Homo sapiens: one gene and its partner. The protein of the gene in region 2 interacts with the protein of the main gene of each other region in a pairwise test. Each region holds a gene or a part of one and is shown on either strand. Other genes may lie near its edges.

Region 1 (7,485 bases), on a different chromosome or scaffold from region 2:
TTATACATTATCTCATTAAAATTCTAGTATTTTCGATTTAGGTTGTGTTATGCACACTTTACAAACAAGGGGATTGAGATTTACAGAGAGAGAGTAACTTGCATAAGATCACGTAGCTACCAATGGTGTCATCCAATGGAATTTTCTTCAGTGTTGGAAATGGTTCTGTCTGTGCTGTCCAGCATAGCAGCCACAAGCCACATGTAACTGAGTCTTTGAAATGTAGCTAGTGGACTGAGGAACAACAGTTTAAGTTTTTTTTTTTTTTTTTGAAATGGAGTCTCGCTCTGTCGCCCAGGCTGGAGTGAGTGCAGTGGCGCAATCTCGGCTCACTGCAACCTCCGCCTTGCTGGTTGAGATGGATTCTCGCTCTGTAGCCCAGGCTGGAGTGCAGTGGCGCGGTCTCGGCTAACTGCAACCTCCGCCTCCCGGATTCAAGCGATTCTCCTGCCTTAGCCTCCCGAGTAGCTGGGATTACAGGCGCTTGCCACCACGCCCGGCTAATTTTTTGTATTTTTTAGTAGAGACGGGTTTTCACCATGTTAGCCAGGCTGGTCACGAACTCCTGACTTCAGGTGATCCACCCGCCTCGGGCTCCCAGAGTGCTGGAATTACAGGCGTGAGCCACCACACCCGGACTAAGTTTTATTTACTTGTAATTATTTTAAACTTAAATTTCCACTTGTGGCTAGTGGTTACCATATTGGAGAGCAAAGTGTAGAACTTTTTGACTCCCAAATCTTTCACATGTAGCTTGGTCATATTGCTCTTTATTTTACTTTGAGACAGACTCTCGCTCTGTTACCCCGGCTGGAGTGCAGCGGCATGATCACTGGCTCACTCACTGTAGCCTCCACCTCCCAGGCTGAAGTGATCCTCTCCCCTTAGCCTCTCCAGTAGCTGGTACTACAGGTGTGCACGCCACCATGCCAGGCTATTTATTATTATTATTGTTTTTTTGTAGAGACAGGTCTCACTAGGTTGTCCAGGCTGCATACTGCTCTTTAGATCTCTTAGTTCATTTTTCTTTCTTCTACGATATCAGAAGTTACATTCAGCCCTTAAATGGAATTTAAAGACTGAGTTAGCTATAGCTCAACTTTGCTTTCATATGTAGAGTGGATAAAATACGCACATTATTTGTTAACTCTTTGGTTTTAAAAACAATGTTTACATGTCATAGTTAAAACTGGTGGAAAAATCTTTAAATTGTATCTTTTTTGGTTTAATATAGGAATTGTGCATAGGAATTGCTGAAAAAGTAGTCAGAACTTGTTGGTTATTTTAGTGTAATAAGAGTACAAATAGGAAGCAATATGAAAAGTCACTAATAGAAAGCTGAAAAAAACGATCCTCTCATACCCGCGTCCATCCGTTCATTGGACAGTTCTTTTCAGACTTTGTAAGTATCAGTAAACCATTACTCACTTTTCCTTATGTAGCTGCAGAAGTAACCTGAAGAATTAAAATTATTCTTTTACTCTCAGTGTATAGAAATCAAATATCAAACACATTGGATTCATCCATGAATTGGGAAGAATATGTGTAAGATTAAAACAGTAAGAAAGATCTGTCCGATGGCAGATGTTCAAATCATTTTCTGATTAGTGGATTTAATTTAAATTCATTGAATTTTAGAGTTTCATTTGCTAAAAGGAATTTCAACAACTTTCTGATTTTGTATGGAATAGTGAAAATTCCAACTCTTTTTTTTTTTTTTTTTTTGGTGTGCTACCCTCAGGAAAAGGCAAATTATAATGTAATCTCTTTTTATTAGGATTTTTAAGAGGCAACTGCCAGGTTCAGTATAAATATATCTGAATCTATTGTATCTTCCATAGTTATGGTACTGTCCTGGGATAATTGCAGTTCATAGTCTTAACTCTAGACATATCCTGGAGGACCTATGTCTGTAAATTATCTTTGAATTGTTCTATGTTATTTTAGTGTTATGTGAATTACATTGCTTCCAGCTCTTTGAAAATCGTTAATTCAACTGCAGGTAAGGCGTCAGTTACTGAGACTGTTCAGATAACTGAAACATCCTGTTCATACCCATTCCTGACCATTGGGACCACTGTACTATTTTCAAGGATAAGATACCACTGTACTATTTTCAGGATAAGAACCATGTTATAAATAGAATTATAGTGTCCTAGTGAGTGTGACAAATATAGGAAACATGATTTAACCCATGACATATGGTTTGATTTGTAGGACATCCCCAAGTGCTTAATACAAATGAGAAATGTACTATAATCTTAAGGCATAAAGATGTTTAAATGATGGACAAAAATTGAGGGCCACATCTGAGCATCAGTTTGAAATCAGAATATCTCCTCTGTCAAGGAGTGACTTTACTTTCTAGCTGGGTCCTTGATAAGCTTTTGAATCTCTCTGAGTCTGGGTTTCCTCATTTTAATATAAGGAGGAAAGATCTAACTCGTACCTTTTCAAATGGTGTCACAAGGGATTAATGAGTCAGTGTATTGAGAAGTGTTTGGCAAAGCCTTATACAAACTCCATAGTTCATTATATTCCAGAGTTTAAAACTGAGCTGGTGCTATGGTATTTCTCTGCACATTTTCAGAGACCTCCAAATTGTGCTTGGACAGTTTGAAAAATGATTTATTTTTCTCTTTGTGATCAGTAAACAAGGTCCAAGCTTTAGATGTTGTATTTTATTTTACCCCACTCCTAATGGAATAGGTGATTTGTGACCTCTGCAAAGTTGTACTATACATAAGTTGTCCCATATCTGTGTTTTTGGGAAGCTGGTCTGTAGCTGGGCTAGTGTTGCTGAAGTGGGCAGGCCAGGCTTGATTCAGGGCTGTTTTTGAGGTGGCGGGAAAAAGTGCAGTCTCTTAGAGGAACGTTCAGTACTGAATGATAAAGGAATAAGGTTTTAGGCCTTGTATGTTACCTTAGCCTATTACTTGAGCTTTCAGCAATTACAGCTGAGAATGGAAAAGAATCGTATTTTCAGTGTAGGGGAGTCTTTGCAACCTACCTGCCTTTCCACTTTAGAAATCACAATTGCCTTTTCTTCTTGTTAACGAGGTTAATCCATTAAGTGGGATATTTATATGGTAAGACATTATTTTCAAGTAAATTAATTCTCACTCTTAAGGCTGTTGAGAATTCACTTAGGTGGTTGAGGAGAAGCTTTGTACTTTAGTTTACTGAGTGTCTCTCTCTCTCTCTCTCTCTCTCTCTCTATATATATATATACACTTTGCCTTAAAATATATATTATGGTTATGGCATTATGTGTTGTAAAGAGGGAGAGAATGCTTGAATTATTGTGGCTAGATAGGGGCAGGTAGACAAGCACAGGCCCAACTGGAAGGATGACTTGATGGTAGTTGAGCACTTTGCAAGGTACCTCCAGTGAGATGCCAGACCCTAGTAACAAGCTCACCTGGAGGGGAGTTTGTTTGTGGTGCAGGTTTAATGTCAAGGACCAGTTCTTGGAAACAGAAGGTATGTGGGGTGCCAGTTGAAGATCAGGGGACAGAAATGTTTTTAAAACCACCAAGTATAAATCACATAAGATCGATAGACAGTCGTGATCAGCCATCTACATACAGATGAGGATGTTTGTCAGTTTGAAAATGGATCGATTGTTGAATTTTTCTTTGTTTCTCCCCAGTTAAGATATGCAAGTTTAGCATTCTGTAAGTGTTGGATCAGAATTTCTGATGCCCTTGGCACTCACTACTCAGTGTCAGTTTAGACATTGGCTCCTAATTTTTTTTCTTTTTCTTTTTTAAGATACAGTGTTTCACTGCTGCTGGAGTGCAGTGGCTCTATCATAGCTTACTATGGCTTCGAACTCCTGGGCTCAAGTGATCCTTGAGTAGGGCTATAGCTAGGACTATAGGTTCACGCCACCATGCCTGGCTAATGTTTTTTTTTTTATTTTTATAGAGACAGGGTTTCACTTTGTGGCTCAGGCTGGTCTCTAACTTCTGGCTTGAAGCAATCCCCCCGCTTCAGCCTCCCAAAATGTTGGGATTATAGGTTATGAGCCACCTTGCCCGGCCCTGTTTTGTTTTTATAATATCATTAAAATACCTCATCAGTTTCAAATAACCATTTTGCAGGGTGGTAGGGGATTTTTCTGAGATGGTGTTGAGTCACAGTGTTATTTGAGGTTCTAGTAAGTATCAAAGTGTGTCTTGTGTTAAATGATTCTATTTGAGCTTAAAATGTAATTTCATTTCAGTTACTTGTTTATTGACTCAGAATGCATTTGTTGAGATCTAGACCAGGTTCTTTGTTAATGGAATGTTCTACTCTGTTCTGATGTTTTTGGAATCTTGTATAGAGAACAGTGTCTACCACCAAACTCCTAAGGCTGGATGGTGGTAAGTTCAACTCTTTGCTACCTTCTGAAATTTGAGAAATAGTAAAATTGGAGCACCTTCAGGCTGTGTTAGACTTTAAGGCTTCTAAATTATATTAGAATGTAAGGATACATCTTTGTTTTGACCCTGGAAAGAGTAGTAAAGATTTTCATAAAGGCCAACTAGTCATAAAAACTTACTTAAATTGACATGATCCTAACTCACAATTATGAAAAGCTTTCTGTTGAAATAATTGTGTAGAAAGTGATCTTTATACATGAACAAAGGTGGGATGTTTTAGAAATAATTGAAGATTCTAAGATCCCAGGAAATATAATGGTTTAATTTATTTTTAAGGGATTTAAGATTCCCCATAGCCTATGAAAGAGGGGTCTCTATTAAAAATAACGCCATTGTTCTAGATGTAGCTAATTAGGGATTTGCAATTATCTAGGCAAGGCTAGGATAAAGTTTGGCTGCCTATTCTGTATGAAAAGGTTTTACTGTAAATATCAAGTTTAAATAGATCTTAAGAGGAATATTTACCTAATTAAAAGAACAAACCACTTTTAAGCACCTTGGGAAAATCAATTTACTTAAAAGCAGTGTAAAAATGCAGAATGCATTCACTGATGCTGGTCTGCTGGTGGTCTTTTCATAGAGATACAGGAGCCCCTGGAAAGTCAGTGCTCTCTGTGGATTGCCATGAAATAAATATTGATTGACTCAATGCTATTATGTGAACTACAAACAGTTTACCAGCAATGGGTAGAACTATATTATTTGCTTGCAAAATACATCACAACAATAAACACAATATCTGCCTCCCCCACCCCACTCCACTCTACCAATAGACTCCAACTATGCCTATTTATTGGTTTTGGAGTTTTTCTATTGACATTTGTTTTGCTACTTGTTAACTTCTTTTGTCATGTGTAAGCATTTGATGGCAGATTGGGGACAGCAGGTGTTAAAGGTTTAAGAGCATCATTATTGCTTTTAGCTTCATTTCTTCTGCCTTTGTGTTTGGGCAAGATTGTGGAGAGTCCTGAGTTTAGTATTTAGATAAGGTAATTACATGTCCTTCTCCTCTACTTTTACTAAAGCAAGATCCTCCTGGGCAGCTTAGTTCCAGGTACTGTATGAACTTGCCAGTAATAAGAGTAAGTTTCTTTTAAAAGATTTCTGGATATTTTACGTTTTATACTCAGTCACTCAGATGCGAGGTTTTCTAGTATGTGTCTACTTAGGGGTCAGATTTGACCAGTTTTTAACAGTACAAGTTGTACATATAGGATACTTAATGTATTTCTAGGATATTATGCTTCATTTTCTCTTAGTATTTTAAAGGTTTTAAAAAACCCATTCTATACCTTCTATATCTTTTATTGTTTAAGTCATTCAATGGGAAAGAAAATAATAAAAGTCTTTAGATGCTGTTTCTGATTTTTCGATCATGGTTTTTTTAATCTCAAGAAAAATAATTCTGATTAAGAAATAGAGGTAAACATTATTCTGAAGTAGTGAATTAGAGAATACTTAAATATATTGAGCTGGAATCCTTGTGTATTGCATGTTGGGAATGTTAAATGATAAAGCTACTGTGGAAAACAGTTCTGTAGTTCATAAATATTTACACATAGAATTACTATATGATTCAGCAATTCCATTCCTATTCCTATACGCAAAAGAAAGCAGGGACTCAGGTACTTAAAAGCCAGTGTTTATAGCAGCATTATTGACAATACCTAAAAGGTAGAAACAACCCATGCCCATCAACAGATGAATGGATAAACAAAATATGGTATTATATATTGGAATATTTTGGTACAGTGGAATATTATTCAGCCATAAAAAAGAAGGCAGTTCTAATACATGCCATAACATGAATGAATCTTGAAAACATTATGCTAAGTGAAATAAGCCGGACACAAGAAGATAAATATTGTATATATCCACTTGCATGAGATGACTAGGATAGGTAAATTCATAGAGACAAAAAGTAGAATAGAGATTACCAGGGCTTGGGGGAAGGGAAGATGGAGAGATAGTGTTTCATGGGTTTAGAATTTCTGTTTGGGATGATAAAAAATTTCTGGAAATGAACAGTGGCGATGGTTGTACAACATTATGAATGTATGTAATGCCACTAAGTTGAATGCAGAAAATGGTAAATTTTTTGTTATGTATATTTTATGACAATTAAAAAATGCAAAAGTAAATATTGAAGATGTATCCTACACAGTCTCCATATGCCTCTTTACTCCCCCTTGGTCTGCTTCAGGCAGGTATATAGTTATTTTTTCTTCATCTGGCTGTTGCAGTGTAAATGGAGATTTCCCTAGGCCATTTTTTGGAGATCAGAGAGTTTCCTTATTTTATTAACTGACTTAAATTTAAGAGGAAAATGTTTAAAAGTAGATCTCTGGAGGGGAAAAAAGGGCATTTTAATATTGAGATGAATCAGGGAGTTTGTTAATATTGGCAGACCATGTAAGCACATGAAGATAATCTATCCTGAATAGCACAGCGAGTCATTTAGAAATCCAGTAGTAGGTGTACACTCGGACCTGTCACATTTTCTAACCTTTAAACATTGTTTTTTGTTTCTTTTTTTTGAGATAGAATTTCGCTCTTATTGTCCAGGGTGGAGTGCAATGGCGCGATCTCGGCTCACCCTGACCTCTGCCTCCCAGGTTCAAGCGATTCTTCTGCCTCAGTCTCCCGAGTAGCTGAGATTACAGGCATGCACCACCACCCCTGGCTAATTTTGTATATTTAGTAGAGACAGGGTTTCTCCATGTTGGTCAGGCTGGTTTCAAACTCCTGACCTCAGGTGATCTGCTCGCCTCTACCTCCCAAAGTCCTGGGATTATAGGCATGAGCCACCGTGCCTGGCCTAACCTTTAAACATTTTATTCATTCTTGACATCATTAGTACTGTGGAAAAACTTTGATTTCTGTTTAAGAGAAATGGTGTAAGTCATCTCTGTACTCATGTTGGAAATGCATTAGGTGTTAGAATTCTTTAGTTCCTTAGACTGTAAAACCAAGTTACAAAAGGGATAGAGTGAAAGAAAACACATAAATTCTGTTTTATTCATCTGAACTTGTCTCTGGCATCTAATGATTGCAT
Region 2 (9,116 bases):
GGATCACTTGAGGCCAGGAGTTTGAGACCAGCCTGGGCAACAGAGCAAGACCCGCATCTCTAAAAAACAGTAAAAAATTAGCCAGGCATGGTGGTGCACACCTGTAGTCTCAAGTACTCAGCGGTAGGACTGCGAGGCTGCAGTGAGCTCTGACTGTACCACTGCACTCCTGCCTGTGTGACAGAATGACATACTGTCTCTAAAGCGGAAAAAAACAAAACAAAAAACAGCCCAGGAGCCAGGGAAGACTTTTAACACATATTTTGTTGAATGAATGAATGAAGTGATCCAGGTTTTTGTGTGCATTTAATTTCACCTCTAGGTGCTGATCCAGTTTGTGGTATAGTGTTCTGGAGGTCCAACGTCATCTACTTCCTGCCCTTCAGAGGTATGCTGATGTTGTGTGTACATCAACATCAGCACAGCCTCCTGAATGAACCTAAATTCAGTTAACACAAATTTGCATTAAAACTAATATTAGGCTTTGGATTAGGTATCTGAGTTGTTTTGCATGTTCTCCATTGCTCACAGATTTCCTTATCTCATTTTTCAGAGTCTTTTGAAATGGACTCTAATCTACTAATTCATTCCATTTTGACCACTCTCTTATGTGAATTGTTGGAACCAGACTTCTTTGGTCACCATTTTCTAGATATGCATTCATATTTAACGTTGTTGGGCTTCCTAAGTGGTGATTTGGAAGGCCTTACTGAATTTTATTTTCCTCTCATTCACAGACAGATTAAAAAAAAAAGCTTTCCATTTTTAGGCAAATTCTTAAACTTTATTAGCCTTAGTTCCTCATTCTTTTTTGAGACAGGGTCTCGCTCTGTTGCCCAGGCTGGAGCACAGTGGTACCACCATAGCTTGTGACAGCCTTAAACTCCTGGGCTCAAGTGATCTCCTGCCTCAGTCTCCCCAAATAGCTCAAACTACAGTCACCCAACACCATGCATGGACTAAGTTTTTAATTTTTTGTAGAGAGAGGGTCTCACTATGTTTAAGACCAGCCTTGAACTCCTGGGCTCATGCGGTCCTCCTGCCTTGGTCTTCCAAAGTGCTGATAGCACAGACGAGAGCCACTACGCCCAGACTAGTTTCCTCATTCTTAAAATGGGAATAACAGAATCTAAGAGTTGCCTGCGGTAAATGAGATTACACACGTACTTATCACGTGGGCTTCCAAATGTCAGCTCTCTGATGCGCTAGCTGTGCAATCCTGTGTAAGTCTCCTAATTTTCAGGTCCCATTTCCTCTTTTGTGAAACGTGGCCAAGGGAGAATGGACTTTGCAGTGTTTGTGTTTCAGTCTAAGATAATACTGTCTACTTGGGATTGCAGTCCAGCCACCACTTACCAGCTATATGCCCTTGGGCCATACTTCCTCTGCGCCTCAGCTTGAGCCTATCAATGACATCTAAGAGCTGTTTATCCAGTCAGGAGTTGCTTGCCACGGCATAAGATGTTGGTTCCCTTGAAAATGCAACCCTATAGCTTAATGTCACCCACTGTTAAGATTTTCCAACACTTGCTTACCATGTAGCTTTCTTGTGGTGAAACTCTAAAGTTATTTCCATTTACCCAAAAGCAAACCTCAGTGTGTACATATGGAATGGCTGGGATTGAATTGTGTGAGGAATACACAGATTCTTGCCTTGTTTGGAGACCACTTCTGGTGGGTACCCACTAAGGAGTTGCTCCTGGACAGTGTATTTCTTTTTCCTCCTCCTGGCAGGCAAATATGAGTCACATCTGAGTCTCTTGACATATGGGAGTCGAATCGGGAAGATATTCTCTCTCTTGTTAGAAATCTTTGTTCCTATTCAAAATTTAGAAAGAATATTTGTCATGAATGTGATAGTAAGTTGTAAAAGGACTCCCAAGGCTCTTGTAAAGGAAAACTCATGTCATCGTGTCTTTTTTTTGAGACAGGGTCTTGCTCTGCTGCCTAGGCTGGAGAGCAGTGCTGTGATCATGGGTCACTGCAGCGTCAATCCCCCCCGGCTCTAGCCATTCTCATGCCTCAGCCTCTTAAGTAGCTGGGGCTACAGGTACACACCTACCACCCCTGGCTATTTTTTATTTCTTGTAGAGATGGGGTCTTACTATGTTACTCAGGCTGGTCTCGAACTCCTGGGCTCAAGCAGTCCTCTGGCCTTGGCCTCCCAAAGCGCTGGGATTACAGGTGTGAGCCACTGTGTCTGGGCTCGTGTCATCATTTCTGATCTCTTGTAATGGTTATCATGGTGCCAGTATCAGAACGATAATTTTGGACAATGACCAGAGCTTGGGATATAAATTCTTGTAATATCTTTAGGGGGTTTTTAATCTTACGCCCTTGTTACAAAATGAAATGCACAACTCCTTGGTCAATCATTGAAAGTTTAAATTCTCCCCTCTTGATGTCTTTGTCATTTGGTAACACTGGTAATCTTGCAGCATCAGATCACTGTCCCACAGTCATCTATGCACTGTAACTTCAAATAATCAAGTTGTTGCAAGCAGTTACTCATCTTAACAATCTAGCTACCAGCCTGTATGCCCTACCTTATTTGTTGGCACAACCTTGGAAAGCCCCAAACGAGATTTTTGTGGTTTTTATTTCACCCCAACTTCATCTTGCAGATTTACTGTCCTACATACTTCTGATCTTGTCTCTTCTCTATCCTTATGACCAACGCCCTCATGCATCATTTCTTTTCTATTTCAGGGGTATGTTAAGTGCCTCTTGGTCTTAACTTTCTCAAATCCATCCTAAAATAGAAAATGATTCCTTCCTGGCTTAGAATCTTTCAATTGCTCCCAATTTCAACTTCTGACATCATGGTCCCATCCTCTCCAAAGTCACCCCAAGTAGTCATACTAAACTTCTGGTTCCTTAAACTAGAAATCATATTCATGTCTTGGCCCTCTGTTGTTTGTATGTGCGAAATCCCTTTCCACACATTGTAGCCTGGATAACCCAAACTTCCCTAACATTTCCCCCACGCACAGGCAAGCTGATCTTCTGATATATCTCTGCCCTAAATCGTGTCATTATTTGCTTACATCTGTTTCCCCTAAGAGACGCTGAAGTCTTTGATGGCAAAGCTGTGGCTCATTCCTTTTTTTTTTTTAATCTCCATCACTTGTTAGTGCTTGCTGAATTAACAGATGTAAGGAGTTAACTTACTGTTGCACTAGCTCAAACATATTTAGATTGTTACCTCACAAATAGCTTTTTTTTTTTGGAGACGGAGTCTCGCCTTGTCGCCCAGGCTGGAGTGCAGTGGCGCGATCTCGGTTCACTGCAGCCTCCGCCTCCGGGGTTCAAGCGATTCTCCTGCCTCAGCCTCTCAAGTAGCTGGGACTAGAGGCGCGCACTGCCACACCTGGCTAATTTTTTTATTTTTAGTAGAGACGGGGGTTTCACTATGTTGGCCAGGATGGTCTTGATTTCCTGACCTCGTGATCCGCCTGCCTCGGCCTCCCAAAGTGCTTGGGACTACAGGCGTGAGCCACCATACCCGACAGCCTCACAGATATCTATGTCCATTTATAAATATATATAAAAGCTTTTGGCCAGGCGCAGTGGCTCATGCATGTAATCCCCAGCACTTCGGGAGGCCAAGGCGGGTGGATCACCTGAGGCCAGGAGTTCGAGACCAGCCTGGCCAACATGGTGAAACCCGTCCCTACTAAAAATATAAAAATATAAAAATTAGCCGGACGTGGTGGCGCTTGCCTGCAATTCCAGCTACTCGGGAGGCTGAGGCACAAGAATCGCTGGAACCCGGGAGGCAGAGGTTGCAGTGAGGTGAGATCGCGCCACTGCACTCCAGCCTGAGAGCAAGACCCTGTCTCAAAATAAATAAAAGCTTTTGCTATTTGGTGTAAATAAAAGCCAACTTGTACACGGTGCTTACTGTATACCAGGAACACAAATTCATTAAATCCTCACAACTTTGAGACAGGCACAAATATTATCTGTTTACTAGTGAGGAATTACCTACGGTTTACTAGTAAGGAACACTGAGACCCACAGGTTGTGACTTGCTCAAGGTCAAGCTGGTGGAGCCAAGACAAGGTGCAGGCAGTGAGTCCTGCCCTAGAGTCTGACCCGAACCACATTTAACGTCTATGTGGTGTGTAGGTTATTGCCATGAGTAAGAATCAGAATTGTTAACGCGCATTCCAGGAAGGCAGGGACACCACTGAGTGTTACTGCTGTACTTTAGGGGCCAGAGCAGGGCAGGCTGGATGCGCGGAGGAAACTCATAGTTAGGTCAGAAGCCTGGCAAGACAAGGGAATTTTCTGGTCGTCGTCCACCTCTCCAACCTCACATCCTACTAGTCTTCCAAGAGGATTCTAACTGCACATGACTCCCTAGTTTCCGGCTTCTCTTCCTAAGGAGGGTCTGCGGCCCGTCTGCACCACCCTCTCCCCACAGTCCCGTTTTCCTGTCCATGCTTGGATGGATCCAGCCGAGCCGTCAGCCGCAGCTGCGCGCTGCTCCCCCGACTCGCACCCCCTCGGCGAAGCGCTGCATTTTATGTAATTTTCTGCCGGGCTGCTGGCTTGTGGGGGATGTGGCTGGGTCTCGGCAGCCTTCAGCGCCGCAGACGCTCCGGCAACGCCAGCATACGAGGCCCCCGCCCCAGGAGCGCGGGTCCGGGCGGCGTTCCCCTCTGCGGGAGGCGCGGCGAGCCAATCCTCACTTTAAAAGCTTTCCTGTCCTCGAAGCGAGGGGTCTTCCGTGCGGGGCAAGACGCACTGGCCCCAGACGACCGGTCCGTGAAATGACCCTTCCGAGCGACCCGGAGCGGGCGACCTTGCCCAACCCGCGACTCGGGGCCCCTGCGGTCCCGCGTAGAGGACCCAGGTCCCACGGGGGGCGGCGGTGAATCGCCCCCTCTTGTGGCCGCGCTTCCGCCCCCGGCACCCGCCCGCTGCTGGGCCACCCGGCGTCGCGCTGCCGCCTCACAAAGCCCGGGCAGCCGCCTCATTGCGCGCAGGGATTCGGACCACGCGCCCTCCCCTCCCCCACTCGCTGCTGCGGCGCCCAGGTCTTTGCCTCCGCGTCACTTTCTCCTCATCGAGTCCCCGGAGGCAGAGAGCTGAGCGAGGTTCGCCTCCCCGGGCGGGACACGAGCTCCGGTCCTCTCTTGGCGCAAACCCCCGCCCCCCGCGGAGGGACTACTTTTCGTCTCCCGCGGAGGAACTACTTCCTCCCCCGCGGAGGCGTCGGTCCAGGCGGCGCGCACGGTATGGCGGCGGCGGCGGCGGCGGCGGCGCGCGCCTGAGAAGAGGGGACGCCAGCCCGGTCAGGCCTCGGCGCGGCCTACACGCTCCGCTCGCTCGCTCGCTCCCGCCTCCCGCCCCGCGCCCGGCCATGGCGGAGCCGTCGTCCGCCCGACGCCCGGTGCCTCTCATCGAGTCGGGTAAGACGCGAGGCCGTGCCACCCCCGCCCTGGCGCTCCCGGCTGCTTCGGCTTCCCCGGCTCCCCGGGCTCCCCCGGCTCCCCTGGCCCCGTCCCCCTCCCCTCCCCGCCGGGGCTTGACCTGACTCCTTGTCTTCCCGCAGAGCTGTACTTCCTTATCGCCCGGTACCTATCGGCGGGCCCGTGTCGGAGAGCGGCCCAGGTGAGTGCGGGCCCGCGGGCGGCTGCGGACTTGGCGTCCCCAGTGTCCCCGCCGCCGGGGGTCGCGGGTGGTGGGCGGGGGTGAAACGGGAGCGCCCCGGGCCCGACCCCACCCCTGACCGCGCGTCTCTCGGCCGCAGGTGCTGGTGCAGGAGCTGGAGCAGTACCAGGTCTGTGCGCGCCCGTCCCCGCGCTCCCTCGGGTTCCTCCTGCCGACCTTGCCCTGAGGGATGCTCGCCCGCGCCCCCCGCCCGCCGCCCGCCGCCCGCCCCCGGCCCCCCGCCCCCCGCCCCCCCCGCGCCGGAGGGGTGGTCACTCGTGTGCGTTTCGTGTCTTTCCAGTTGTTGCCGAAGAGATTGGACTGGGAGGGCAACGAGCACAACAGGAGCTACGAGGAGTTGGTGAGCATTGGGCACGTTTGCTCCCCGGGTTTTCCGTGCACCGCCCCCCGCCCCCGCCCCTTCCCCTCGCGGGGACCCCGGCCCGTGGGGTGCAAAGTGTGACCCGCACTGGGGGGCGGCCCGGGGATAGCTGCGTTCCCGGCTGAAGATTTTGTTTTGTTTTTGAGGCGGCCAGGTTTGTTTTGGCAGGAAACAGTCATTGGGGGCGGCGCGGGGCGGAGCGGTGGGGGCGACTCGCGGAGGTCCTGCGGCAGGGGTGGGGCTCCAGGTGCGGCCGCCTCTGCGGGGGTGTGGCGTGCGCAGCCAGCCATTCAACTGGGCGGTTTCATTCGCTTCCCCGCTCCACCGCGCTTGTAACTCGCGCTCTGATTGGCCTCGCTGCTCTTGCCCCGCCCGGGTCTGTCCCCCCACTTGTTCCCTAGGAATAGAATCATTGGTCTCTGAAGGTGGAGAAATGTTCTTGTGTTGAGCTTTTTATTTTTTGTTTTGTCAGCAGCGTCATAAAAATCTTGCAGCTGTATGAATATGCCACTGTAGTGCTTGTGCTCCTTTCTACTGTACAATATTTGTTGAACGCAGTAGTTGATTGATGAGTTTCACACTGATCTTGTAGATAACACAATAAAGTGCTTTAAATAGGCACTTTTCTTTTGAGCTCGGTTAATCTTGCATTACAGTCTCATTTCTTTTGTGAACTTGGTTAATGTTTCTATATAACTTGCTTTTATCTATAGTTACAGCAGTTGCAGGGATTCGTTTGTTTTTACTGGAGACATTTTTCAGGAATATATTTTTGCCGTTTCGTTATTAGGATAAAGGAATTCATTAATTGCCAGGCCATATTCAGCATCTTGTATAAGGAAAACAATTGAGAAAGAAAAGAGCTTCTGAGTGATCTTTTACCACAGTTGGAAGACCTGTAACACTTGAGTGGTAGAGTATGGTGGCAAGTGAAAAGAAGAAAAAAAAGTGGTAGAAGATTACTGGTTTTGAATTAGACAACAGAAGAGACCAGAGGATGTGTTATTTCCATGAACAGTTAACACTTGAAGCCTGGTGCAAGTAATAAATAATTTTAATATTTGCTTTCTTAGATTTTGAAGTAAACACTTTAACAGTGGATGTTTTCAAGGGAATGAGTTCTAAAAATTCTGATGGCAATGTGTTGAGTTTGACATTTTGAGATAGTTTATTTTTGTAAACGTTGAGGAAACATTTAAAGGATGCCCTCTTTTAGTTTTCTTCACGGATAATATAGCCTTATCGGTGAAGCGGAAAAGCATTACTGGTTATGACGCTGTTGTCGTGCTACCTGAGAGAAAATAACTTGAAACAAATGTAGTGCTGTAACTACTGGAAAAGTTACTTTTAAAATACATTTATAGGGGCTGGGTGCAGTGGCTCATGGCTGCAATCTCAGCACATTAGGAGGCCGAGGTGGGAGGATCACTTGAGGCCAGGAGTTCAGACCAACTCTTGTCTCCACAAAGAATAAGTAACAGAAAATTAGGCGGCTGTGGTGGTGCGTGCCTGTAGTCCCAGCTATTTCGGAGGCTGAGGCGGAAGGATCACTTGACTCTGGGAGTTTGAGGCTGCATTGAACTATCCTCCTGCCACTGCATTCCAGCCTGGGAGATGGAGCAAGGCCTAGTTTCTTTTTTTTAAAAAAAAAATTTATATAAATTTTTTGGCTTTTGTTGGTAGAATTGCTTAAAACCCTACTTACTATTGTTTAAAATCACTTAAATTCTGTGATAATATGGCTGTGATTTGGCTATGACATATGGCATCTATCATTGCCTCCCTGATTTGGTCTGTCTGGTGGGTGTCCTTTCTTTTTTTACCTTCCTCTCTGCCCTCCAGTCCCCCAGGACTGAGTGATGATGAGCCTCATGTGTAGAGAATTATTCTTTTGTTAATGGTATATGTATCGTTTCTAAACTTTCAAAGTCTTTTAAAAATACCTTATTAAGAAGTATTCCAGGCCAGCTGCGGTGCTAACACCTGTAATCCCAGCACTTTGGCAGGACGCTTGAGGCCAGGAGTTCTAGACCTGCCTAAAGTGAGGTTGAGGATGTAGTGAGCCCTGATCAAGCCACTGTGCTCCAGCCTAGGTGAGCGAGACCCTGTCTCGAAACGCAACAACAAAAAAGAAGTATTTCAGATGTACACAAATGAGAATAATGTAATGCACCGCTGTATATCATCAAATTTGAATAATAATAATTTTTTTTTTTGAGACAGTCTGTTTTGAGGAGCAGCCTCGGCTCACTGCAACCTCTGCCTCCTGGGTTCAAGTGATCCTCCTGCCTCAGCCTCCTCAGTAGCTGGGATTACAGGCACCTGGCTAATTTTTGTATTTTTAGTAGAGATGGGGTTTCACCCTGTTGGCCAGGCTGGTCTCGAACTCCTGACTTCAGGTGATCTGCCTGCCTCTGTGTCCCAAAGTGCTGGGATTACAGGCACCTGGCTAATTTTTATATTTTTAGTGGAGAAGGGGTTTCACCATGTTGGCCAGGCTGGTCTTGAACTCCTAACTTCAGGTGATCTGCCCGCCTCTGTGTCCCAAAGTGCTGGGATTACAGGCGTGAGCCACTGCGCCTGGCCAACAAATTTGAATTTTGAAAGTTACTAACTTGCTATATTTACTTTGGTTTCTGTTTGAGGTATACATATGTTTTAAGAAACTATCAATGGACATCTTCAAACAAAAATAATAGAATAAATGACCCACCCACTAGGTGCCCATTTTCCAACTTCAGTGATTATCAGAGAATGTTGCATATTGTCTGCTCCCTTGTTTTTAAGCAAATTCCAGAAAGCCATTCATTTCACTGGTTAATGTGTTGGAATGTTTTAAGGCAGATTCCAGACACTACATTTCATCTCTAAGTTTGTCAGAGTTCATCTCTAAAAAATAAGGACTGCTTATTATATCATCAAGTGCCAATATCACAGAGTCCATATCCAGATTTTCTTTTTGTTCCCTGGGTGTCTTTTTTTTTTTTTTTTTTTTGAGACGGAGTCTCGCTCTGTCGCCCAGGCTGGAGTGCAGCGGTGCGATCTCGGCTCACTGCAAGCTCCGCCTCCCGGA

The links.
Region 1: the proteins of BRWD1 (region 2) and FNDC3B interact in binary tests that used the Homo sapiens proteins (3 or more experiments, as listed by UniProt).

The regions. Positions count from the first base shown.
Region 1 is NC_000003.12:172,042,578-172,050,062, forward strand, and holds part of FNDC3B (fibronectin type III domain-containing protein 3B), read left to right. Parts: intron 1-7,485. UniProt on the Homo sapiens protein: May be a positive regulator of adipogenesis.
Region 2 is NC_000021.9:39,309,747-39,318,862, reverse strand, and holds the start of BRWD1 (bromodomain and WD repeat-containing protein 1), read left to right. Parts: upstream 1-5,230; 5' UTR 5,231-5,371; coding exon 5,372-5,420; intron 5,421-5,563; coding exon 5,564-5,622; intron 5,623-5,761; coding exon 5,762-5,791; intron 5,792-5,962; coding exon 5,963-6,022; intron 6,023-9,116. UniProt on the Homo sapiens protein: May be a transcriptional activator. May be involved in chromatin remodeling. Plays a role in the regulation of cell morphology and cytoskeletal organization. Required in the control of cell shape.